Linked DNA regions of Homo sapiens. The protein of the gene in region 5 purifies or fractionates together with the protein of the main gene of each other region. This does not show direct contact. Each region holds a gene or a part of one and is shown on either strand. Other genes may lie near its edges. The genes, in order: URB1, ZNF346, DDX21, LIN28A, LLPH, BMS1 and ZNF317.

Region 1 (3,500 bases), on a different chromosome or scaffold from region 5:
CTCTTTAATGCCCAGATTTTATTGACATTGGTGGCGAATCCCTATTCATACACAGACAAAGCATCTGACTTTGTCCAAGAAGCAAGCATGCTGCAGGCCACTATGACGAAGCAAGAAGCCGATGACATGAGCATTCCCATCTCCCACATTGACGGTATGTTCCATTCTGTTCTGCGCTGCTCAGAGGTCTGAAGACCAAGCCACAGTGACGTGTTAAGAGATTGAGAACAAGAACTGCACTAATGCCCTAGGCCAAGTGCACACAGTCCCTTTGCAGCAAAGACCAGCCTGTTCTGGAAATAATCTCCTTATGTGTTCATGTAATGGGAAACACTTGTTGTTTTATTTGCATAGTATTTACTGGGTGCCAGGTAGGGTTTTAAGCTCTTTTTAAGTTCTAACTCATGTAAATCTCATAAGCAACCCCAAGAGAAAAGAGTATTATTATTCTACTCATTTTATATAGAGATAAAGCGGCTGGGGCACAGAGAGGTTTAGTATAATAACTTGCTCAAGCTCATACAGCTACTACATAGCAAAGTCAGGATTAGAACGCAGGTACTCTGGCTCTGGCCTGTGCTTTAACCCTCACACTATTTTGCCTCTCAGATTTTGGCTTGTTTGCCTGAATATCTGGGTTAAAGTTCCTGGGCTTCTTGTGTCACTTGAGGAAACTTCAACCTATTACCACCTCAGCTGAATATCCTGCATTTTATCAGACAAAGATACAAAAGATTTCATAGGCAATGTTTTTGTCTGTTTAGGGTCAAACTATGTTAAATGCTCCCCCCAAGAGGAATTTGGCTTTTTTCTTTTTGCACGTATTCTGCTTCTGCCTCCCTGTGGGTATTTGCAGTGAAACCCTTCAGTGGCTCTCACATCAGCTGGATTCTCCTCTTTCTGTCTCAGATGTTCTCGACATGGTGGATGTCCTGGTGGAGGGCAGTGAAGGCTTGGATGAGGAAATAGGGTTCACGTTGAGTGAAGACATGATCCTGCTCACGTTCCCATTCAGTGCGGTAGTCCCTGCGGCCCTGGAAGCCAGGAATAAGTTGCTCCTTGGGACAGGCAATGAAGCAGGTACCTATGTATAGTCAGGATGTCTTGGCTGCACCTGGCCGGCTAGTCTGTGCAGGGTGGGAGGTGGGATTCCAGGGGCTCTGGGATCAATTGCTGAGAATCCAGGGCAATAGGAGGTCAGAACCCCCAGAGTGATAGCTACCCAGCCAGCAGAGCTAGGAGCACAGTGGGAGGGATCTTGGGGCTGGCTAGGCTTTTGGGAAATTGGTCATTTGAGCGTGAGTCTGAAATAATGTGTTTGCCTGGCTGCCCAGACAGCCTCTGTAACGTTGATGTTTTTTCGTCAACATTTATTCTTGATACGTTGATGTAGAGGATGAATCCTTCATACTTGTTGGATTTTCCAGGCAACTTAGACCCAAGGAAGTGCTCACAGATTATAGTAGCATGATTGGTTGGGAGAACTCAGGCTTTGCTGCAGTAACAAATAAGCCCTGACTTGTCAGTAGTTTAATAAATAAGGGTCTGTTTCTAGACCATGCTGTGGTCCAATACAGGCCAGGTGGCTCTTCTGGTTGGCTGTCCTTTAGGAGGTTGGTCAGGGATTCAGGCTGCTCCCGTTTTGTAGCTATGCCATCTCAATTTATGGCTTCCAAGATCACCATGGAAAGGGAACTGGAAAGGGTGGACAGTCAAGCAAGGGGTGTTATGGCCTGGAAGTGACTAACCAGGCATGTGGTCCCAGCCTACACGCAAGAGAGGCTTGTGTGCCGAGGCACAGTAAACGGATTGGTGAGCACCTAGCAAGTCCTGGTCCCAGGTGGCTTTTGCCTGGCCTTTTACATGCCTGGGTCTTCACTCCTGGGCCTCGGGAGTGGATGTCTGACTTTGCTGTATATGTTTAATAAAACAGAGCCTAGTACAGTCTCCAGTAGTAGCAATTCCTTCCCTGTGGTTATGTGTCCCCTCATGGAGTTGCATGAATTTTTCAGGGTCTTGCCTGTATGTGGAAGAAGGTGGTGTTGGTAGGTCACAGAAGGGTGGGCCCAGCCAGCCTCTTCCCATATGCATCTCGTTCCTTTGCAGCGGAAAACGTTGTGACATATCTGACGGCAGTGCTGACTGACCTCCTCCACACCCAGAGGGACCCCCTGGCTCTGTGTCTCCTGCTCCAGGCATATGATAAGCTTGAGCCTCCATGCCTGGTGCCTTGCTGCCAGCAGCTCTCACGGTTTAACAGATACTACAGCCTCTGGATCCCGGAGCAAGCCCGAGAGGCCTGGGTGAGCTGCAGCCACAGCTGTGGTCACTGCTGCTGTGCAGGGTTCTTCCCAGGGTCCCAGCTGGCTGGGCCACAGCTGTGCAGTTGGGTAGCCAGACAGCCTGCAGGGTGAAATTTCTTACCCTAAAGTCCCCTGCATAAGAGAGGAAGCTAAGTAGTATCCCTGGTGCTCAGCTAACATAACTGAACACACAGGACTCAGTGATGCAGCCAAATTAAATTCCCCATTGGCTCCCTGATAATGATAATAGGTTAATTCCTCTTCCAGCCTGGGGCAGGAGCGTTGCCTCTTCCTTTTTTTCCTTACCTTGTTATCTGTGCGTGCTTGTCTCCTGGCTCTCCTCTGCAGACCTTAGCATGGCCCTAGACAAACTGTGCTCAGCTGTCACACATGGCCCCTCAAGGCCTCCAGCAGGGTCTCTTCTGTTAAAGTTGGGGAAGGAAAGGAAAAAGTATATTTTCTTTTGCTGGGGACTACATTCTCTTAATGGGATTCTGGCTCCAATGTGCAGGGTATTTACAATGCTGTGTGGGGCACGAAATTTGTGGTATGCATTTTTGTGCATTCATTTCATTTTAGCTGCATTCGAAAAAGCAGTCAGTTTAGACCCTCCTTATCTTGTGATATTGGTAGCAATAGCCAACAGCGATTGCATGTTTTCTGTGTGTTTTTTGGAGGCATACCGGGTCCTGTACTAAGTGTACTATGTGTATTTTTGGCCGTTTAATCCTTACTGTAACTCTGAGAAGTAGGCCGGGACTCTCACCATCCTTTATGCATATGGGGAAACCGAGGCCCAGAGCGGTTCCAACACCAGTCAGTGGCGGAGTCAGGATTTGGCCCAGGCAGTCTGGCTCCAGAGCCCTGACCCATAATGTTGCCACCTTCCCCCACACGTAGGCCACAGTGATAGCCAGACAGCAACTTATGTGGCAGTATTAGAGGTTCTGTCCTGCCCCTCGTGGTTGCTTGGAGTGGGTGTCCACCTTCTGTGGAATAAGACTTAGCAGTGGTTCTCACCCTCCAGGGTGTGTCGGAATTCCCCAGAGGGCCTTTTCAAACTGGACTGCCGGGTTCCAGCCACAGTGTCTGGCCCGGCAGGTCTGGGTGGAGCCTGAGAATTTGCATTTCACACATGCTGCTGCAGGCCTGGGGAACACTGACAACCACCAAGTTTCAGGGCATGTTACAGCCTTG
Region 2 (3,500 bases), on a different chromosome or scaffold from region 5:
GCTTTGTTGCCCAGGCTGGTCTCAAATTCCTGGTCTCAAGTGATCCTCCCACCTCAGGCTCCCAAAGTACCAGGATTACAGGTATGAGCCACCACACCTGGCCCTTTTCTCACAATTTATAATTCAGAAAGGCAAGATAAACTCTATGACCCTGGGCAAGTTATTTTACATATTTGCACCCTATTCAGAGATCAGGCTTTCTGAGAGAGATGCTGGGATCCCTTTATGTAGTCTTGAAATACATGGTTTCCTAGCCTAATCATAATCAACAAGTAGAACGCAATGGGAGGCTGGGTGCGGTGGCTCATACCTGTAATCCTAGCAATTTAGGTGGCTGAGGCAGGCGGATTGCTTGAGCTTGGGAATTCGAGACCACCCTAGGCAATATGGTGAAACCCCGTCTCTATAAAAAATACAAAAATTAGCCGGGTGTGGTGGCATATTCCTGTAGTCTGGCTACTTGCAGGGGTGGGTGGGAGAATTGCTTGAGCCCTGGAGGTGGAGGTTGCAGTGAGCCGAGATCGTGCCACTGCACTCCAGCCTGGGCAACAGAGTGAGACCCTGTCTTAAAAAAAAAAAACCTAATGGTCCACTTGTTCAGCAAACTCTGAGCATCTACTGTGTGCCAGACTCCAGCTGGGTGTGAAGGATAAGAAACAAAAATGAGTCAAATAGTCCGTGTTCCAATGTCACACTTGAGTTCACAGAAAAGTCTCCTAAGCTATGACACTGTCAGTTTAGGGTGGCAAGTGGTATGACAGAGGTCTATTTAATGTACTCTGGGAGCACAGAAGAGGAGCAGGGTTAATTCTTCCTGGAATACACAAAGGGACTTGACAGTTGTTTACTGAATGATGTTTTTTTTTTTTTGAGAGAAAGTCCCCCAGAGGAAAAGCTTATATTTAAATTGGGTCTTGAAGGCTAAGCAGACACGCTGCCAAGCAGGAAAGGAAGGAAGCACATTTTAGACAGCAGGAATGGCCAAAGCAAAGCAAGGAAGCATCAGAGAATAAAGTGGGGGATGGTGAGTAGAGTCTGGGACAAAGTAGCTGGAGAAGAATCTAGAAAGTAGGTTGGGGTTAATGTGTGAGGGGGGCCATAAATGCCTGTTCTGTTATGGGCAGTGGGGAACCATTGAAGATTTTCTGGTGGGGCAGTGGTATGATCAGACCTGTGTTCTTTCTTCCAACCAGAAGAGCAGCAGAAGCAAAGACAAGAACCAGTGCTGCCCCATCTGTAACATGACCTTTTCCTCCCCTGTCGTGGCCCAGTCGCACTACCTGGGGAAGACCCACGCAAAGAACTTAAAGCTGAAGCAGCAGTCCACTAAGGTGGAAGGTACTGGTTTTCCTGAGTAGTGCTATAGTGGGACCCCTGCCGTCCTCAGGGCACTACTGCCAGGGGCTCACAGAGATCCTCACTGAGGCCACAGACTTGAAGAAGTTGAATTGCTTTTGAGAACCCTTAAAAATCTCCAAGTAGACCCAGCTTCACTGAAATGCAATCTCAGAATTATGCTCACCTAACCTCCCTTTCTTTGGTTATAGGTTTTTCTCTATAGGCTGAGCTTTTGTCCTGACTAATAATTATAACTCAGGAGTGCCAAAGTCCTCCAGGCCACGCATACCATGAGAGCATTCTATCTCCTACCTCTCCCACTAGATTTTTCCATCCCAGCATCCACCTGCCCTTATTACTGCATGTTCCAAGTTGAAAGCTAAATCCTTGTCTTTTTCACATGCTCAGGTTATGGCCTACTCACTTTAATCCTCAAAAGCTGCCTGTTCTCCTCAAGACAGGGACTTGCCTTTCAAAGCTGAATACTTCAGTGCTGCTACTACTGCCCCACAATCTGTAACTGCCATGAATTCATTCCCAGTACAGTGACTTCTGAAATAGCCCCCTTTATCTCGTCACGACTAGGGCTCAGCCCTCACTTTCATCTCATTAACTCCTGACTTTCTGGGGTTTTAACCTCTGCTAATTGCAATTAGTCAAGAGTGAAAGTTCTTTGATGTTTATTTCATTGTTTTCTTGATAATTTTTGCTTCTCTATTTTGGACCAAGAAGTAGACTACACTATTAGTAATACTATTATCCTTTTTGTGTTTACTGACAACTGTGTTTTGGAAGCCTTCAAAGGTAGGGTGAAAAATCACTCATAATTTTTTTTTTTTGAGATGGAGTCTCGCTCTGTTGCCTAGGTTAGAGTGCAGTGGCATGATCTCGGCTCACTGCAAGCTCTACCTCCCAGGTTCATGCCATTCTTCAGCCTCAGCCTCCCAAGTAGCTGGGACTACAGGTGCCCACCACCATGCCCAGCTAATTTTTTTGTATTTTTTAGTAGAAACGGGGTTTCACTGTGTTAGCCAGGATGGTCTCAAACTCCTGACCTCGTGATCCACCTGCCTCGGCCTCCCAAAGTGTTAGGAATACAGGCATAAGCCACCACGCCGGCCAAAACCTTTTTTTTTAAATAGAGATGGCTTCTCACTATATTGCTCAGGCTGGTCTTGAACTCCTGGCCTTAAGTGATACTCCCATCTCAGCTTCCCAGAGTGCTGGGATTACAGGCATGAGCCACCACACCTGGCCACTCATAATTACACCTTTTTATCACACCCACATCTAGTTATTCATGGTATGAAACAGCAGAATGTGGACTTTGAAGTCACAGAGTCCCAGGTTTAAAGCCTGGCACTGTTACTGTTTATATGACTTTTTTGTGTCTGAACTGCCTAACCTATAAAATGATAATAATACTGTCTACTTCATCGGTTGTGAGGATACAATAATGTGTATTAAAAACACAGGACATAGGCCGGGCATGGTGGCTCATGCCTGTTGTAATCCCAGCACTTTGGGAGGCTGAGGTGGGCAGATCACTTGAAGTCAGGAGTTCAAGACCAGCCTGGTCAACACGGTGAAACCCAATCTCTACTAAAAATAACAAAAATTAGCTGGGTGTGGTGGCACGAGCCTGTAGTCCCAGCTTCTTGGGAGACTGAGGCAAGAGAATCGCTTGAACCCGGGAGCTGGAGGTTGCAGTGAGCTGAGATCGCACCATTGTACACCAGCCTGGGGGACAGAGCAAGACCTCGTCTCAAAAAAAAAAAAAAAAAAACCAATTTTATAAGGTCACAGACTTCTCTTCCCACAAATGGGAAAATTCTCTGCATTATGCCTTGTCCCTGAAATTTCATACTCGAGATTATTTTCCATATTCACTTTCAGCTTTTGCCACATACTTTGTTTTTATATAGTTGTGATCATAATGCAGGTACCCTTTATATCCCGCTTTTACTTTTCATTTAATTTTACAGCTTAAGCACATTTCCATGTTATTACACAACTTTATAACTATATTTCTGAAATTAAACACTTTTTAATGTAAAGTAATATAATCATGTTGTAAGAGATAAGGAAAACATGGATAAATGGAAAGAAAAGTTACCCATAATTTTACCATTCACAGATAAACACTGTTAACATTTTGGTTT
Region 3 (3,500 bases), on a different chromosome or scaffold from region 5:
CCTGTAGTCCCAGCTACTCGGGAGGCTGAGGCAGGAGAGTGGCGTGAACCTGGGAGGCTCCCACGCCCGGCTAATTTTTGTATTTTTAGTAGAGACAGGGTTTCACCATATCGGCCAGGCTGATCTCGAACTCCTGACCTCATGATCTGCCAGCCTCAGTCTCCCAAAGTGCTGGGATTACAGGCGTGAGCCACCGTGCCCAGCCGGAAGTAATTTCTTTCCTGATGCTATTGTCCTCCAGTAGTGCATATTTCTTTCTTTCTTTTTCATTTATTTATTTATTTATTTGGTGAGACAGAGTCTCACTCTGTGGCCCAGGCTGGAGTGCAGTGGCGTGATCTTGGCTCACTGCAACCTCTGTTGCCCAGGTTCAAGCGATTCTCCTGCCTCAGCCTCCCGAGTAGCTGGGATTACAGGCGCCCACCACTGCGCCTGGTTAATTTTTGTAGTTTTAGTAAAGATGGTGTTTCACCATGTTGGCCAGGCTGGTCTTAAACTCCTGATCTCATGATCCACCCACCTTGGCCTCCCAAAGTGCTGGGATTACAGGCGTGACCCACCACGCCCGGCTGCATATTTCTTTTATGTCACTTTGTACACTAGACTGTCACTTCAAATATTTACTATAATTGGGTGCTTTAAATTTTGTTGATATTTTTCACTTCTAATGTTTTTCCCACTAGATTAGGAGTGCCATGAGTATCTTTATCATTATTACTTAGCATATTACTTTGTACTTGTAGGTATTTAACAAATATTTTAGAGTAACAATACAGTTAACTGTGGTACCCCACACAGATAAAAGTACTTACTAAAAACCCAGCAAATCTTGTCATTGTTTTTTATAGTTGAACGCATGAGGAATGGGATTGATATCCTGGTTGGAACACCAGGTCGTATCAAAGACCACATACAGAATGGCAAACTAGATCTCACCAAACTTAAGCATGTTGTCCTGGATGAAGTGGACCAGATGTTGGATATGGGATTTGCTGATCAAGTGGAAGAGATTTTAAGTGTGGCATACAAGAAAGGTAATCCACAAATTCAAGAAGCTGATAAAAAAGACCAAAGGAAGGGTGGTAACTCTGTCTCCTGGGTTCAAGTGACTCTCATGCCTCAGCCACCCTAGTAACTGGGATTACAGGCACCCACCACCACGCCTGGCCTCGTATTTTTAGTAGAGATGGGGTTTTGCCATATTGCCCAGGCTGGTCTCAAACTCCCAGCCCCAGGTGATCCGACTGCCTCACCCTCCCAAAGTGCTGGGATTAGAGGCATGAGCCACTGCGCCTGGCCTGGTGACTAAGTAGTTTTCTAAGAGATTAATAAAGCCTTGGGAAATTGGAATGGGGCTCATTTTATCTAGAAACTTGGATTAAAAAAAAAAAGTCATTACTCTGGGATTAAAGCTGGTGAGGAAAAAAAAAGTCATGATTTATCATATTACCACAATGGGGAAAACTTGGAAAAGTAAAGAAAAATACCATCTTCTGTCATCTTGATGTGGTCTGCTTTTGGTGTATTCCTGATGTTTTGCATTTTATTGTATATATGTGTTGATTATACTCTGACTATACATATAAAAATTCAGCAAAAATACTGTATGAAGTGGTTGGCCATGACTTAATTCTACCATCTGCCTAGTTTGATTTTTATTCAATATAAATAGTTCTGTTTAGCCACTTTTATACAGATAGCTTCTCACCTCAATATCTGGAATTGTTTTTTGTTTTTTTTTTTGAGACAGGGTCTAAATCTGTCACCCAGGCTGGAGTGCAGTGGTGGGATCTTGGCTCATTGCAGCCTCCACCTTCCAGGTTGAAGCAATCCTCCGAGTAGCTGGGACTATAGATGTGCGCCACCATGCCCAGCTAATTTTTCTGTTTTTTGTAGAGCTGGGTTTCACCATGCTGGTCTTGAACTCTTGGACTCAAGTGATCTTCCCTCCCACTTTGGCCTCCCAGAATGCTGGGATTACAGATGTGCTCTACCGCGGCCGCCCTTTTTTTATTTTTAAGATAGGCCCTCACCCTGTCACTCAGGCTATAGTACAGTGGCACCATCATAGCTCACTGCATCCCTAAACTCCTGGGCCTCAGCTTCCTGAGTAGCTTAGGGCTACAGGCGTGCGCCACCATGCCTGGCTAATGTTTTTATTATTGATAGAGACAGGGTCTCACTGTGTTGCCCAGGCTTGTCTTGATTCCTGGCCTCAAGTGATCCTCCTGCCTCCACCTCTGAAAGCATTGGAATTACAGGCATGAGCCACTGTGCCTGGCCTGGAATTGGTTCTTTAGGATAGATTTCCAGAAGTGGAATTACTGAGCTTAAAAGTGTAAAAAATTCATGCTCCTCAATATACATTGTCAAATTCTCTCCAGAAGGGTTCTATCACACTTCTATTTGGAATGTTTGAGAATGTGATGTCACTCTTAAGTAGAATTGAACAAACAAAAATAGTAGCTGGACTCAATGATTGGACAAGAATTCTAAATTCATAAAATATTGAGAATAGAAATCTTAGAATAGATTTCGTTTGTAATTCAAAAGCCTAATGGTCAGAAAGCAAAATAACTTTAAAGTACTTTCACTATTTTAAGGATCTTTTAGATAAATTACCTAGCGGTATTTCTTTGCCCATTGGGAAACCTCTGTCTTCCAGTTTTGTGTCCTCAGTGCCCGACTTGGCCTCAGGTGGTTGCTGGTGAACATTGATGGACTGTGGAAGTATTAGGTTAGGTGGAATACTATGTAGGCTTGTTTGGATTATTCATACTGACTTTTTTTTTCCCCCTCCTCAAAGATTCTGAAGACAATCCCCAAACATTGCTTTTTTCTGCAACTTGCCCTCATTGGGTATTTAATGTTGCCAAGAAATACATGAAATCTACATATGAACAGGTGGACCTGATTGGTAAAAAGACTCAGAAAACGGCAATAACTGTGGAGGTAAATTATTTACTTAGTTGCCAGAATATAAAATTGTATATATTTTTTTCTTGTCTGTTAGTATTAAGACTGGCAAATGCTCTTTTTCCAGATAAATACTAAATCCATGTGAAAAGCCAAGGAAAAATATTTCTATTTGAGCTGTATATGATATCTGTGTTTTTATTTTTATTTTTTGAGATGGAGTCTCGCTCTGTCACCAGGCTGGAGTGCAGTGGCGCAATCTCCGTTCACTGCAACCTCCACCTCCCAGGTTCAAGTGATTCTCCTGCCTCAGCCTCCTGAGTGGCTGGGACTACAGGCATGCGCTACCACGCCCAGCTAATTTTTGTATTTTTAGTAGAGACAGGGTTTCACCATGTTGGCCAGGATAGTCTCAATCTCTTGACCTCGTGATCTGCCCATCTCGGCCTCCCAAAGTGCTGGGATTACAGGTGTGAGCCACCACGCCCGGCCCGATATCTGTGTTTTTAAAATTTCATCATCTATGGCCTCATTTCATTTCAGAATGATTTGGAACTTAAATCTATCTGAGTTATGTAAACATA
Region 4 (3,500 bases), on a different chromosome or scaffold from region 5:
CTGAAACCTCTGCCTCCGGGGTTCAAGCAACTCTCCTGCCCCAACTGCCCAAGTAGCTGGGATTACAGGCGCCCACCACCACACCCGGCTAATTTTTGTATTTTTAGTAGAGACAGGGTTTCACCATGTTGGCCAGGCTGGTCTCGAACTCTGGACCTCGTGATCCACCTGCTTCAGCCTCCCAAAGTGCTGGGGTTAAAGGCGTAAGCCACCGTGTGTGGCTGAGCCACCATGCCCAGCTATTTTTACTTTTATTTTATTTATTTATTTTTGAGACGAAGTCTTGCTGTGTTGCCCAGGCTGGAGTGCAAAGGCGCCATCTTGGCTCACTGCAACCTCTATAGTGTGACACTTTAAATTTCGTAATTTTATATTTGTTGATTTCTTCCAAATGCTTGTATTTACAAATTTTTCTGTTTGTTGTTGTTTGTTTGTTTGTTTTTGAGACAAAGTCTCACTCTGTCGCCCAGGCTGGAGTGCAATAGTGTGATCTCAGCTCACTGCAACCTTTGCTTCCTGGGTTCAAGCAATTCTCCTGCCTCAGTCTCCCAAGTAGCTGGGATTACAGGTGCCCGCCACCACGCCCAGCTAATTTTTTTTATTTTTAGTAGAGACAGAGTTTCACCATGTTGGCCAAGCTGGTCTCGAACTCCTGACTTCAGGTGATCCTCCCGCCTCAGCCTCTCAAAGTGCTAGGATTATAGGTGTGAGCCACCGTACCCGGCCCTCTGTTCTATTTTATTAAGAACTTTAAACCTGAATAGCTACAAAAATGTCATGGCATCTGCTTATATAATTACGATTTTTGTTAATGTACTGGTAGACTTTGTTGTTCTTAATCGTAGTGACTCTTTGAGTCAGTTTCCTTACCAGTAAAATAGGAGTACCATCACATTTGATTCCTACCCTACAGGAATAAGAGTTCCTTGTCTTTTGGTATAATAATGGAAATTAATGTTAAAATTTACTGCATTTCCCTTCACCAGAGTAAGCTGCACATGGAAGGGTTCCGGAGCTTGAAGGAGGGTGAGGCAGTGGAGTTCACCTTTAAGAAGTCAGCCAAGGGTCTGGAATCCATCCGTGTCACCGGACCTGGTGGAGTATTCTGTATTGGGAGTGAGAGGCGGCCAAAAGGAAAGAGCATGCAGAAGCGCAGATCAAAAGGAGACAGGTATGGATTGGAAGGCAGCTTATATAGGTTGCTAAGGGCATCCCCAGTCTCCCAATCCTGTCACTTTTTGGGTCACACTGCAAAAGACAAAGGGAAGCCTGTGGTCCCTGGCAGCATCTGGAAGGCTGAGCGCCTGCAATAGGTGTGGGCAAGGGCAGTAGGTGAGGAGGCCACTGGGGGTGACTTAGTGCTACTTGGGACAAGTAAGTTTGCTCTGTGGTCTCTAAGCCTCAATTGTTAAGTGAGGCAGTGATACTAACATCCTAGGATGGTTTTAGAATTAAAGGAGATCATAGATTTGCAAATGGTGGGACAAGACAGTATTATCTATATCTGTTGCTGCTTTACCAGGTCTGCAAATGGCTGGTTTCCTTAATCTTGCTTGGGCTTAAAGCCCCTTAGCTCTGAACAGATACTATAATTTGGCTTCTTTAATTTCTCCTATATTAAGGGTATGGAAGAATCTCTCCTATCCCCCAAGTTGCAGTTCCTAGTTGGGGTCAGTAACTTATATTTCTGGTATCTTGGTATTTTCAAGTTGACATGAATCTGAAGAGATCACCTAGACAATTAGATGTGGAAAGGACTTAGAGATCATTTAGTAATAGTCCTCCTTTTGCAAGTGGGAAGTTTGGTCTCTGGGAAGGGAAGTAAGTGACAAACCTGTACCAGAGCCCAGGTGTCCTCATTCGTGGGAGGCATCTGGCCTCTTCTTGCTCCTTTCTCTTACTTTTACGATCTTGCTTTGTACTAGGTGCTACAACTGTGGAGGTCTAGATCATCATGCCAAGGAATGCAAGCTGCCACCCCAGCCCAAGAAGTGCCACTTCTGCCAGAGCATCAGCCATATGGTAGCCTCATGTCCGCTGAAGGCCCAGCAGGGCCCTAGTGCACAGGGAAAGCCAACCTACTTTCGAGAGGAAGAAGAAGAAATCCACAGCCCTACCCTGCTCCCGGAGGCACAGAATTGAGCCACAATGGGTGGGGGCTATTCTTTTGCTATCAGGAAGTTTTGAGGAGCAGGCAGAGTGGAGAAAGTGGGAATAGGGTGCATTGGGGCTAGTTGGCACTGCCATGTATCTCAGGCTTGGGTTCACACCATCACCCTTTCTTCCCTCTAGGTGGGGGGAAAGGGTGAGTCAAAGGAACTCCAACCATGCTCTGTCCAAATGCAAGTGAGGGTTCTGGGGGCAACCAGGAGGGGGGAATCACCCTACAACCTGCATACTTTGAGTCTCCATCCCCAGAATTTCCAGCTTTTGAAAGTGGCCTGGATAGGGAAGTTGTTTTCCTTTTAAAGAAGGATATATAATAATTCCCATGCCAGAGTGAAATGATTAAGTATAAGACCAGATTCATGGAGCCAAGCCACTACATTCTGTGGAAGGAGATCTCTCAGGAGTAAGCATTGTTTTTTTTTCACATCTTGTATCCTCATACCCACTTTTGGGATAGGGTGCTGGCAGCTGTCCCAAGCAATGGGTAATGATGATGGCAAAAAGGGTGTTTGGGGGAACAGCTGCAGACCTGCTGCTCTATGCTCACCCCCGCCCCATTCTGGGCCAATGTGATTTTATTTATTTGCTCCCTTGGATACTGCACCTTGGGTCCCACTTTCTCCAGGATGCCAACTGCACTAGCTGTGTGCGAATGACGTATCTTGTGCATTTTAACTTTTTTTCCTTAATATAAATATTCTGGTTTTGTATTTTTGTATATTTTAATCTAAGGCCCTCATTTCCTGCACTGTGTTCTCAGGTACATGAGCAATCTCAGGGATAGCCAGCAGCAGCTCCAGGTCTGCGCAGCAGGAATTACTTTTTGTTGTTTTTGCCACCGTGGAGAGCAACTATTTGGAGTGCACAGCCTATTGAACTACCTCATTTTTGCCAATAAGAGCTGGCTTTTCTGCCATAGTGTCCTCTTGAAACCCCCTCTGCCTTGAAAATGTTTTATGGGAGACTAGGTTTTAACTGGGTGGCCCCATGACTTGATTGCCTTCTACTGGAAGATTGGGAATTAGTCTAAACAGGAAATGGTGGTACACAGAGGCTAGGAGAGGCTGGGCCCGGTGAAAAGGCCAGAGAGCAAGCCAAGATTAGGTGAGGGTTGTCTAATCCTATGGCACAGGACGTGCTTTACATCTCCAGATCTGTTCTTCACCAGATTAGGTTAGGCCTACCATGTGCCACAGGGTGTGTGTGTGTTTGTAAAACTAGAGTTGCTAAGGATAAGTTTAAAGACCAATACCCCTGTACTTAATCCTGTGCTGTCGAGGGATGGATATATGAAGTAAGGTGAGATCCTTAACCTTTCAAAATTTTCGGGT
Region 5 (2,348 bases):
AATTAGCTTATTTTTTTGAAATTTGTCATCTTTTTGACTGACATTTTCCAGAGAATTGCTGTAAAGCCACAAGATGGAGCTCAAGCTAAGCACCAAATCATTTTGGAATTAGATTGAGTGAGCTAAATCACATTAGGAATTGAATGTAACACTTTTTGTGTTTTAAGAAATTAAGTCTGAAATCAAAATATAATTTAAAGATGATCAAAACTGCTTCAAGTATTAACTCATTTAATCTGCCCAGCAATCTCATGAGTTTGGTACTAATGTTATCTGAGTTTGGTACTAATGTAATCTCTGTTTACACATGGGGAAACTGAGGCACACAGGCCATACAACTAAAACTGAAATCTGGGATTCAAATTTAGGCAGTGTGGCTCTAGAGCCTATACTCTTACAATGCCATTCTGCCTCTCAAGGATGTGCAAACTCTTGCTAAGAGAGAAAGGTGATTTTAGGATAGAATACCTATTTTTGGGTCAACCTGTGATAGATTGGGTTCATGTGGGCTCAGGATCAGATAAAGAGCAGGTTTAAGTAGAATAATGATGTACAGAACCCTCCTCAAATCTCTAGGCCTAAGGCAGACTGGATTTCCTCAGGTGACACTTCATTAGGAATGGGCTGACCAATCCAAAAGGGGAAGGTGTAGGCCATGATCAGTAGTTGCCCAAGGTACTAATCAGAGAAGAAATGCAAACTGCAGTTGAAGCTCTAAGGTAGAATCAAGTAGTGGTTTTGACCACATCCTATTTTCTACTGTCACATTAGTGTAGATATCTCTTCCCACTATGTAATTCACATGCTACATCAAATAAGGATGCAGCAGTATATATTTGCTTATTAGGAAATTCAGATATTTTCAAAATTTGGATCCGTGTTTCTGGAATATGGCTTAAGAGTTGGAGAAGAAAAATAGCTATAAATGACTTGAATCAAATATCTGAAATGGACTGGTGGTGATGGTGAGGGGCAGCAATGTGTAATTTAGGGAAGTGCTGACCACAACATAAAATTGGGAGGAATCTAAGGCATTGCCAAATTTATAAATACTACAATAGAAATGCAGATGCTAAGCTGTTGGCTAATCTTACTAGTTAAGTGACTAACTTCTGATGCCATCTGGCAGAGTGATTCAAATTTGTGCTAAACACAAAATATATGTCTTTTTCCCTCTATTTGCCTGCATGTATTAATAAAAACACTGTTGCAGTAGACACATACCAATTTTACAAGGAAATGTTTAGGGGTGAGGTGGGACTGTTAAATACTTACATCAGGTCAAAGGTCACTCTGCTGTTTCCAGAGGACTGTCAGGTAGCCAGGAGGCCCAGGGCCACTTTTGGGCCTGCTTACAAAACCCTAAATTTTCCGCAGTTGAATGCCAAGAGTCTTTTGCAGTTATTTTAGAGCAGGGGAGAAAATACAATGTGTTGCCAAATAAGCTTAATTTGGTAGGCAAGCAGTAAAAATAACCCAACAGCCAACATTTAGAGAATGCGTACTCTCTTAAATGCTTTATGTATATTATTTAATCTTTAAAACACTGTGGGATCAATACTTTAATTATCCCTATTTTCAGATGAGAAAACAGTTTGAAAGGTTAACTAAATTTACCCAAAGTCATGCAACTGCTAAGTAGTGAGCAAGCCGCCTGTCCCAGAGTATAGAATGAATACCTATGATGGAAAGCTACAGAGAGACAGACTTTTATTTGATTTAAGGAAGCGCCTTCTAACCAAGATTTTGGGAGCTGAAATGGGCACCTTGGGATCCTTGAGGTGTCAGTCTAAGGTGGACAGGCATTTGGTTGGAATGTAGCAAAATGGATTCAAACACTGTAGAGTTATCCTTCAGAATCTATCGGGGATTGGTGCCAGGATCTTCACAGATACCAAAATCCACAGATGCTCGAATCGCTTACATAAACTGGTGAAATATTTGCATATAACCCATGCCCATCCTCCCATATATAGTCATATGTCACTAAATGACTGGGATGTGTTCTGAGAAGTGTGTCACTAGGTAATATCGTTAATCATTGTGTGAATATCATAGACTGTACTTACACAAATCTAGAGGGTATCGTCTACTACACTTAGGCTATGTGATATAGCCTATTGCTTCTAGGCTACAAATTGGTCAAGCAAGTTACTGTACTGAGTACTGTAGGCAATTGTATCACAATGGGAAGTATTTGTGTATCTAAACATAGAAAAGGTACAGTAAAAATACAGTATAAAAGATAAAAAAATGGTACACCTGTACCACTTATGAATAGTGCTTGGAGGACTCGTGCTTGGGGTGAGTCAATGAGTAAGCCATGAGTGAATGTGAAGGCCTCAGAC
Region 6 (3,500 bases), on a different chromosome or scaffold from region 5:
CTCGACAGCCCCAAGTCATGAGAATGAACCCAGTCCCAGCAGCCCAGGCTTCTCTGTTCCTCCTCCTGCAGGCACAGTTTGAGTAGAGACATCTCTTGAGCTCTTTCCCACTGACTTGTCATTCACAGGCATTCAAACTGTGATGTTTGAAACTGTCTACCTCCGCAGATCCAGGGACAGTCCCTCCAGTCCAAAGGCTCACTGCAATTGGCCCTCAGCCCCCTTCAAACTGGACTTCTGGTTTCTTCTTTCCTTCTGCCCCTGAATTCTGAAGAGCTTCTTCCTGAGGTCCTTCTGCCGCTTCAGCTTCTCCTCCTCCTCCTTCTGCTTGGCTCTGAAGTGCTCTTTATTGTGCAGGTGCCGCTGCTCCTTGGCCTTCTTCATCTTCTGACTATGCACCGTACTCAGAGCATCCAGCAGTGCAAGGATCTGACAAGGACAAAAGCCGGTGAGTATCAGAATGCTCTCAGACACCACACACTCGCATCCTAAGCACTAAGACTAGAGGCAACCCACGATCCAAATGAATATTAACTGCATGAAAATGCATCCTGTGCTAGGAAGTCATTGTTGGCATGGAGACACAGGTGTGATCCCATTTTACCTTTACCACCTCTGTTCATCATTCTGTGGACACTGTGTGCAGCTAACCGAGACAGAAGGGTTCCCCAGCCATGTACCTGTTATCCCCCATGAAAAGCACAGGGCAGAGCAGGACCAGGCAAAGAAAGGGAAATGGACTCTGGCTCTTCCTCTGACTTTAGTTCCAGTGCCCTGAATAACTGAGACTACAGTAGAAACAGGAAGTGTGCTATTGAGAGTGTTCTTTTCCTATCTAAACGCAGCGTGCAGTACAGCATGGGCAACAGTACCTTTCTTTCATGAGGCTCGCGTATGACGGCCGGTCTCCGCCTGTCCTTTGGCACCTTGCCTGCCTTTGCTTGGGTCTTGGGCTTGTTCTTAAATGGCAGGGCCTTCTGCAAGGCTTTTGGAATGTGCAGTGAATTAAAATGTTTCTTTTGCCTCAGGATTGGCTGAAAAGAAAAACAAAGACTGTGACATATTCAAATTATGATCAATGTGCATTTAAAACTTCTGCATAAAATCTTCTCAATGGGTTGACTTTTCCACAAGATTAGTAACACCAGAGTCTGCCGGCCCTGAGAAATCAGGACTCAATCATCTGCCAAATATGAACTGCCTCAGTGGACACCCACAATTCTCAGTAAACAGAGGAACAGACAGCTTACACTTACAACTCTCCCCCCAAAACCCACTGTGCCCATTTCTATGGTATGGAACTATGGGGTCTCAACAGAACAGATGAATAGATCCCAGTTTCTTTTCATGGAAATTTCAGGCCTTGTCTTTGGGCCACTGAGGTGCTTATTTCCCAGACTAACAAAAATAATCTAGCTTTTTGTCTTGACTATCAACCACTCTGGATGTTTTTTTTGTTTTGTTTTGTTTTTTTGAGATGGAGTCTTGCCTTGACGCCCAGGCTAGAGAGCAGTGCCGTGATCTCGGCTCATGCAACCTCCACCTCCTGGGTTCAAGCAATTCTCCTGTCTCAGCCTCCCAAGTATCTGGGACTACAGGCACACACCACCACGCCCGGCTAATTTTTGTATTTTCAGTAGAGATGGGGTTTCACCATGTTGGTCATGCTGGTCTTGAAATCTTGAACTCCTGACCTCAGGTGATCCACCTGCCTTGGCCTCCCAAAGTGCTAGGATTACAGGCATGAGCCACCACAACTGGCCCACTCTGGATTTAAGGACAGTTCTTCCTTCAATCAGCAGCCAAAGAGTCCTGATTCCTGATTCTAATTAAGAAGTTTAACTTGGTATTCTATTTCTGATGGAAGGATGGCTAAAAGAAGGGAGACTCAAACAACAGATGAAGGCAAAATACTCTGCACTGAATTTTCAAGGTAATCTTAAATTCTATATTTAATTGAGATGACCCAAATTCTTTTTTTTTTGAGATGGAGTCTCGCTCTGTCGCCCAGGCTAGAGTGCAGTGGCATGATCTCGGCTCACTGCAACCTCTGCCCCTGGGTTCACGCCATTCTCTTGCCTCAGCCTCCCGAGTAGCTGGGACTACAGGCGCCCGCCACCACGCCTGGCTAATTTTTTGTATTTTTAGTGGAGACGGAGGATGACCCAAATTCTTAACTGCCTCATAAATACTGTTAATAAATTGAAAGTTTTGCCCTAGGCTTTTGTTAAAGTCAACTATATAGAACAAGTTTCTCCTATCTTGAAATGTATTATTAAAGACATCATCCCCAATAATATTCCATATTCTTTGTTTAGGAACCCCGATTGTTTTTGAATTCAAGAATTCAGAGAAATCTACTTGTTACAAAAGAGTAGAATGGATAATGGGCACCACATCCTGAAGTGTATTTTAATAAAAATTCATGTAAGACGGTTCAAAATTTCATTAACTACTTTATATAAAAAGAAATGCCTGGGAGACTTCTGTTTCTAGCAGAGTGGCAGACTGATGCCTTGAACAACCCTCTTATTACAAAACTGAACACTCCACATGAAAACAAATCTTTTCAAATGCATTGTTAAGCTGTGAAGAGAATAACAACAGTTCTAAGAAACCAAAATCTAAATGAAAACACAAGTCCAGGCAGGCATTGAAAACCTAAAATAAAAAAAAAAAAACTGAAGAGGCCAATTGTCAGCAAGCACGTGGAACAGCAGGAACTCTTTAAGCTGCTGCTGGTGGTGGAGGCCAAGCCGCTGTGCTCCCAGAACACGACACAGAAGCCTCCACACTGAAGCAGAGCACAGGTGCCCTGGAGTCTCCACCCTACCCAGGGATCCTCCAGCAGAAGTGTGTGTGCCCCTCCGTACCTGCAAGTCCCATATCCAGACCTTAGTGTTAAGGGCCGTGGGATAACGGCCAAAAATAGGAAATCATTTTACCCATCAATGGATAAATGGTGACACAGTCATATACTGGAACTCAACAATGACAATAAATCAATGTCTGCCATAGACAAGAACATGGATGTGTTCTGTAATACTCAACCAAAGAAGCCAGGCTAAATAGAATGTGCTGTATTTTATAAAAGTCAAAACCAGGCAGAACAAATCTACGTCAGGAACTGGCAAAGTAGCTATTTTGTGGGTTGGGGAGGCAGTGCCTGGGAGAGGCCACAGGGCGAGGCTACTGCTTGGTCCAGGGCGTGGCAGCTGGTGTGCTACAGTTCATCTAGCTGCACACTTATGATTTGGGCACTCTTCTGTATGTACATTAACATTTCAATAAAAAGCTTATTAAAACATTAAAACTTTCAGAAAAATCCACATTGCTTTAATAGAAATTAGCACATTAATGTTTTAAAAATACATGTATATGGTGGGGAAAAAAATAGTTCAAAAGAGTACCCAGTGAAAAGTTTAAGAGGGAGTGATGCCAGCAAGGGGCCGATCAATAGCCCCTTGCGCTCATCCCCTGACAAAGACAGCCAAAGCAGC
Region 7 (3,500 bases), on a different chromosome or scaffold from region 5:
TCTTTCCAGTTTCTTATGTTGAATGCCTGTCACATCCCAAAGAATTGCAGTATCATACTTTATTGTATTTTAATTATAAATATCAAATATCATGGCTTCTTTGGCATGCAGATTTAGAATTTTTTTCTTTTAATTTTCATTTCTGTGACTTTTTTTCTGGTTATCTTTTGGTCATTGTTTGCCAACTGCATTGCTCTGTGGTCAAGCATTTTCTGAGACAAACATGGCCCCATGAGTGCTGTCTCATCATGTTCAATCTGCACATAGTTATTGAACTGCCTGCTTAAACTGGATTTGTGAGAGCTCTGGTGGTGGCTTCATCCATTTCTCCTTAGAATTCTGTCCCCCCTTTTTTTTTTTTAATTTTTGTGTTTTCCTTTTTTTTGAGGCTGTGTTTTATACACACAGGCACACACACACACCTCTTTTTGGATTTATAACTTTTTATTATGTAATACTTCATTTTTCTCTATGAGCCTTTTTGCCTTAATCTATTCTGTCTGATACTAACATTCAAACCAGCTTTCTTTTTTTTTTTTTTTACTTGCCTTATATATCCTTTTATTTCCATTCTTATTGTACTCTTTTTTCTTTCTTTCTTTCTTTCTTTCTTTCTTTTTTTTGAGACGGAGTTTCACTCTTTTTGCCCAGGCTGGAGTGCAATGGCGCGATCTTGGCTCACTGCAACCTCCACCTCCTGGAATCAAGTGATTCTCCTGTCTCAGCCTCCCAAGTAGCTGGAAGTACAGGCGCATGGCACCACACCCAGCTAATTTTTTTATTTTCAGTAGAGATGGGGTTTCATCATATTGGTCAGGCTGGTCTCGAACTCCCAACCTCAGGTGATCCACCTGCCTTGGCCTCCCAAAGCATTGGGATTACAGGCATGAGCCACCGCGCCCGGCTCTTATTGTATTCTTATATTTTAGATATCTCTTGTACGTAGCATATAATTGGATTAATCTATTCTGTGAATATTAGTATTTTAGTTAAAGCATTTATTCTGTTAGCATCTTCTGTATTAATATATTTGAATGTTACATTTGTCTTCTGTTTTTTCTCTAGCTTCTTTTGTGTATTTTTGTCATTCTCCTTTTTTATTTTCTGTACATTTTGAATTTATTTACTCTATTATTTCAGTGGTTGTTCTAAATAATTCTTACCCATGCTCATTCACTAAATCTAGATTTGCATATGTTACTCTCCTGATTTACATGGTTTTCTTATGCATTTTCATTCTTTCTTTATTGATATATCATAGTTGCACATATTGAGTTCTTTTTTTAAACCTCAGAAGAAATTATTATTGCTATTGCATACCATCATTTCTTGTTTCATTATACTCACATGTTTATCACTTTGAGCACTTTACTTGGTTCTTACACTTTTTGGTGTAATTCTTCCACTGTTTGCTTTGGTTCTTTAATTACTTCTTTCTCCCTGAGGTATGTCTTTGATGATGTCTCTTTTCTGTGGGTTGCAAGCCCACAGGAACTTTGTTTTTTGGTGCTCAGAAAACACCTCTTTCTCTCTTTCTCAGTGGACATTTTTGGTGGTAATAGAATTTTATATTTCAGAACTATGAAGATGTTCCATTATCTTCTGGCTTCCACTGTTAATGATGAGAAGTCAGCTGTCAGTCTAATGTTTGTTTGTTTGTTTTCTGAGACAGAGTCTCACTCTTGTTGCCCAGGCTGGAGTGCAATGGCGTAATCTCGTCTCACTGCAACTTCTGCCTCCTGGGTTCCAGCAATTCTCCTGCCTCAGCCTACTGAGTCGCTGGGATTACAGGCATGGGCCATGACACCCAGCTAATTTTTGTATTTTTAGTAAAGACAAGGTTTCACCATGTTGGCCAGGCAGCGGTTTTAGGAGCCTAGAAATGTGAGTTTTTCGTTTTGTTTTGTTTTGAGACAGGGTCTTGGTATGTTGCCCAGGCTGGTCTCGAACTCCTGCGTGCAAGTGATCCACCTGCCTTGGCCTCCCAGCATGCTGGGATTACAGGTGTGGGCCACCATGCCCAGGCTTACTTTGTTTCTTAATGGAGAGATATTTACGGTGTGTTTTAACAAGACCTCCAGGTGACTCCCATGTAACTTAAAGTTTGAGAACTATTGCTTAAAAGGTAACCTGTCTTTTTCTCCTCTGGCTGCTGTTCAGATATTCTTTTTACCGTTGGTATTATCTGGTTCATTGTGCTTAAGATTTTATCTCTCTTCAATCTGTTTATATTTTCCTTCAAAATGAAAAATCTACAGCCACTATATTTTGCAGTGATTGCCTAGGCTCCTTCTCTGTCTCTCATCAGTAACTCCAGTTAGAAATGGTTCAATTCCTTATCTTCTGCCCCCACGTGGTTCTTAGCTGTATTTATGTTCCTCAACTCTTTTTCTGTGCTTCCCTTGCATTTATTGCTACAACTGGCTTTGAAACTTCAGCCTTCATAAAAATTTCATGTAGAGTTTATTAAAATACTGATTCATCAGCCCACCCCAAAGAGAATTGAACTGAGATATGATCTGGGTGTCAGAGTTACTTAAAGTGTTCCAGGGGACGCTTATGCAGCAGACTATATTTAAGAAACAAATTATTATTATTATTATTATTATTGGCTGTGTATAATCTAAAAGCTATTTACTTAGGGCTTTTGTTGTGGGTTTCCATTTTGCTTTTTTTTTAGCAATTGTAATTGCCCTTTAGAAATCATAAATTTTTAATTTTCTGAATGTTAATTTCTTGCCAGCACATGAATTTGAAACCTATCATCTGTCTGTACTTTGTGTTGCATTTGAAATAGTTATGCATGGAAGGTTTAATTGGGGCACCTAGGTTGCTTGTTGGAAACAGAATTCCTACCCTGCTCCCCACCCCCTGGGACATCTCATCTAGCTGGTTGAAAGGAGGGTATATTGATTTACTAATGTAATGCATTTCTGGACCAAGAAAATGGCATATGATGTTCTCACAACCTTTGTTGCCTTCTCTGTCTCTCGCTATATATATATTGTATATATTATTTATATACTTTTTTTCTTTTTTTTTTTTTTGAGGCAGTGTCTCATTTCTGTCACCCAGGCTGGAAGTGCAGTGGCATGATCTTGGCTTACTGCAACCTCCGCCTCTCAGGTTCAAGCAATCTTCCCACCTCAGCCTCCCAAGTAACTGGGACTACAGGCATGTGCCACCATGCCTGGCTAATTTTTTTGTATTTTTAGTAGAAACGGGGTTTCACCATGTTGGCCAGGCCAGTCTTGAACTCCTGACTTCAAATGATCTGCCCGCCTCAGCCTCCCAAAGTGCTGAGATTACAGGCATGAGCCACCATGCTGGGCCTATATTTACGTGAATAACAGTGGTAGAAATGGTTCTAGCAAGGGCAGAAATACCAGTCAGTAAAAGTAACAAAATAATTATTCTCTCTACAGTATTTACATCTGCAAATTCTGAATATCCTGGGATACTGTGATTAAGTTGAATATGGGGATAAAATCAAATATTGG

Evidence for each region.
Region 1: the proteins of LLPH (region 5) and URB1 purify together in Homo sapiens (affinity purification with mass spectrometry; one large-scale study listed by BioGRID and IntAct). This does not show direct contact.
Region 2: the proteins of LLPH (region 5) and ZNF346 purify together in Homo sapiens (affinity purification with mass spectrometry; one large-scale study listed by BioGRID and IntAct). This does not show direct contact.
Region 3: the proteins of LLPH (region 5) and DDX21 purify together in Homo sapiens (affinity purification with mass spectrometry; 2 studies listed by BioGRID and IntAct, with this or other methods). This does not show direct contact.
Region 4: the proteins of LLPH (region 5) and LIN28A purify together in Homo sapiens (co-immunoprecipitation; one large-scale study listed by IntAct). This does not show direct contact.
Region 6: the proteins of LLPH (region 5) and BMS1 purify together in Homo sapiens (affinity purification with mass spectrometry; one large-scale study listed by BioGRID and IntAct). This does not show direct contact.
Region 7: the proteins of LLPH (region 5) and ZNF317 purify together in Homo sapiens (affinity purification with mass spectrometry; one large-scale study listed by BioGRID and IntAct). This does not show direct contact.

The regions. Positions count from the first base shown.
Region 1 is NC_000021.9:32,351,513-32,355,012, reverse strand, and holds part of URB1 (nucleolar pre-ribosomal-associated protein 1), read left to right. Parts: intron 1-15; coding exon 16-154; intron 155-909; coding exon 910-1,080; intron 1,081-2,106; coding exon 2,107-2,303; intron 2,304-3,500.
Region 2 is NC_000005.10:177,043,196-177,046,695, forward strand, and holds part of ZNF346 (zinc finger protein 346), read left to right. Parts: intron 1-531; exon of another isoform or gene 532-1,021; coding exon of another isoform or gene 1,022-1,024; intron 1,025-1,193; coding exon 1,194-1,338; intron 1,339-3,500.
Region 3 is NC_000010.11:68,966,170-68,969,669, forward strand, and holds part of DDX21 (nucleolar RNA helicase 2), read left to right. Parts: intron 1-848; coding exon 849-1,034; intron 1,035-2,806; coding exon 2,807-2,952; intron 2,953-3,500.
Region 4 is NC_000001.11:26,424,317-26,427,816, forward strand, and holds part of LIN28A (protein lin-28 homolog A), read left to right. Parts: intron 1-986; coding exon 987-1,171; intron 1,172-1,925; coding exon 1,926-2,142; 3' UTR 2,143-3,500. UniProt on the Homo sapiens protein: RNA-binding protein that inhibits processing of pre-let-7 miRNAs and regulates translation of mRNAs that control developmental timing, pluripotency and metabolism.
Region 5 is NC_000012.12:66,118,403-66,120,750, reverse strand, and holds part of LLPH (protein LLP homolog), read left to right. Parts: 3' UTR 1-2,348. UniProt on the Homo sapiens protein: In hippocampal neurons, regulates dendritic and spine growth and synaptic transmission.
Region 6 is NC_000010.11:42,827,795-42,831,294, reverse strand, and holds part of BMS1 (ribosome biogenesis protein BMS1 homolog), read right to left. Parts: intron 1,035-3,500; coding exon 873-1,034; intron 430-872; coding exon 199-429; 3' UTR 1-198. UniProt on the Homo sapiens protein: GTPase required for the synthesis of 40S ribosomal subunits and for processing of pre-ribosomal RNA (pre-rRNA) at sites A0, A1, and A2.
Region 7 is NC_000019.10:9,143,397-9,146,896, forward strand, and holds part of ZNF317 (zinc finger protein 317), read left to right. Parts: intron 1-3,500. UniProt on the Homo sapiens protein: May function as a transcription factor. May play an important role in erythroid maturation and lymphoid proliferation.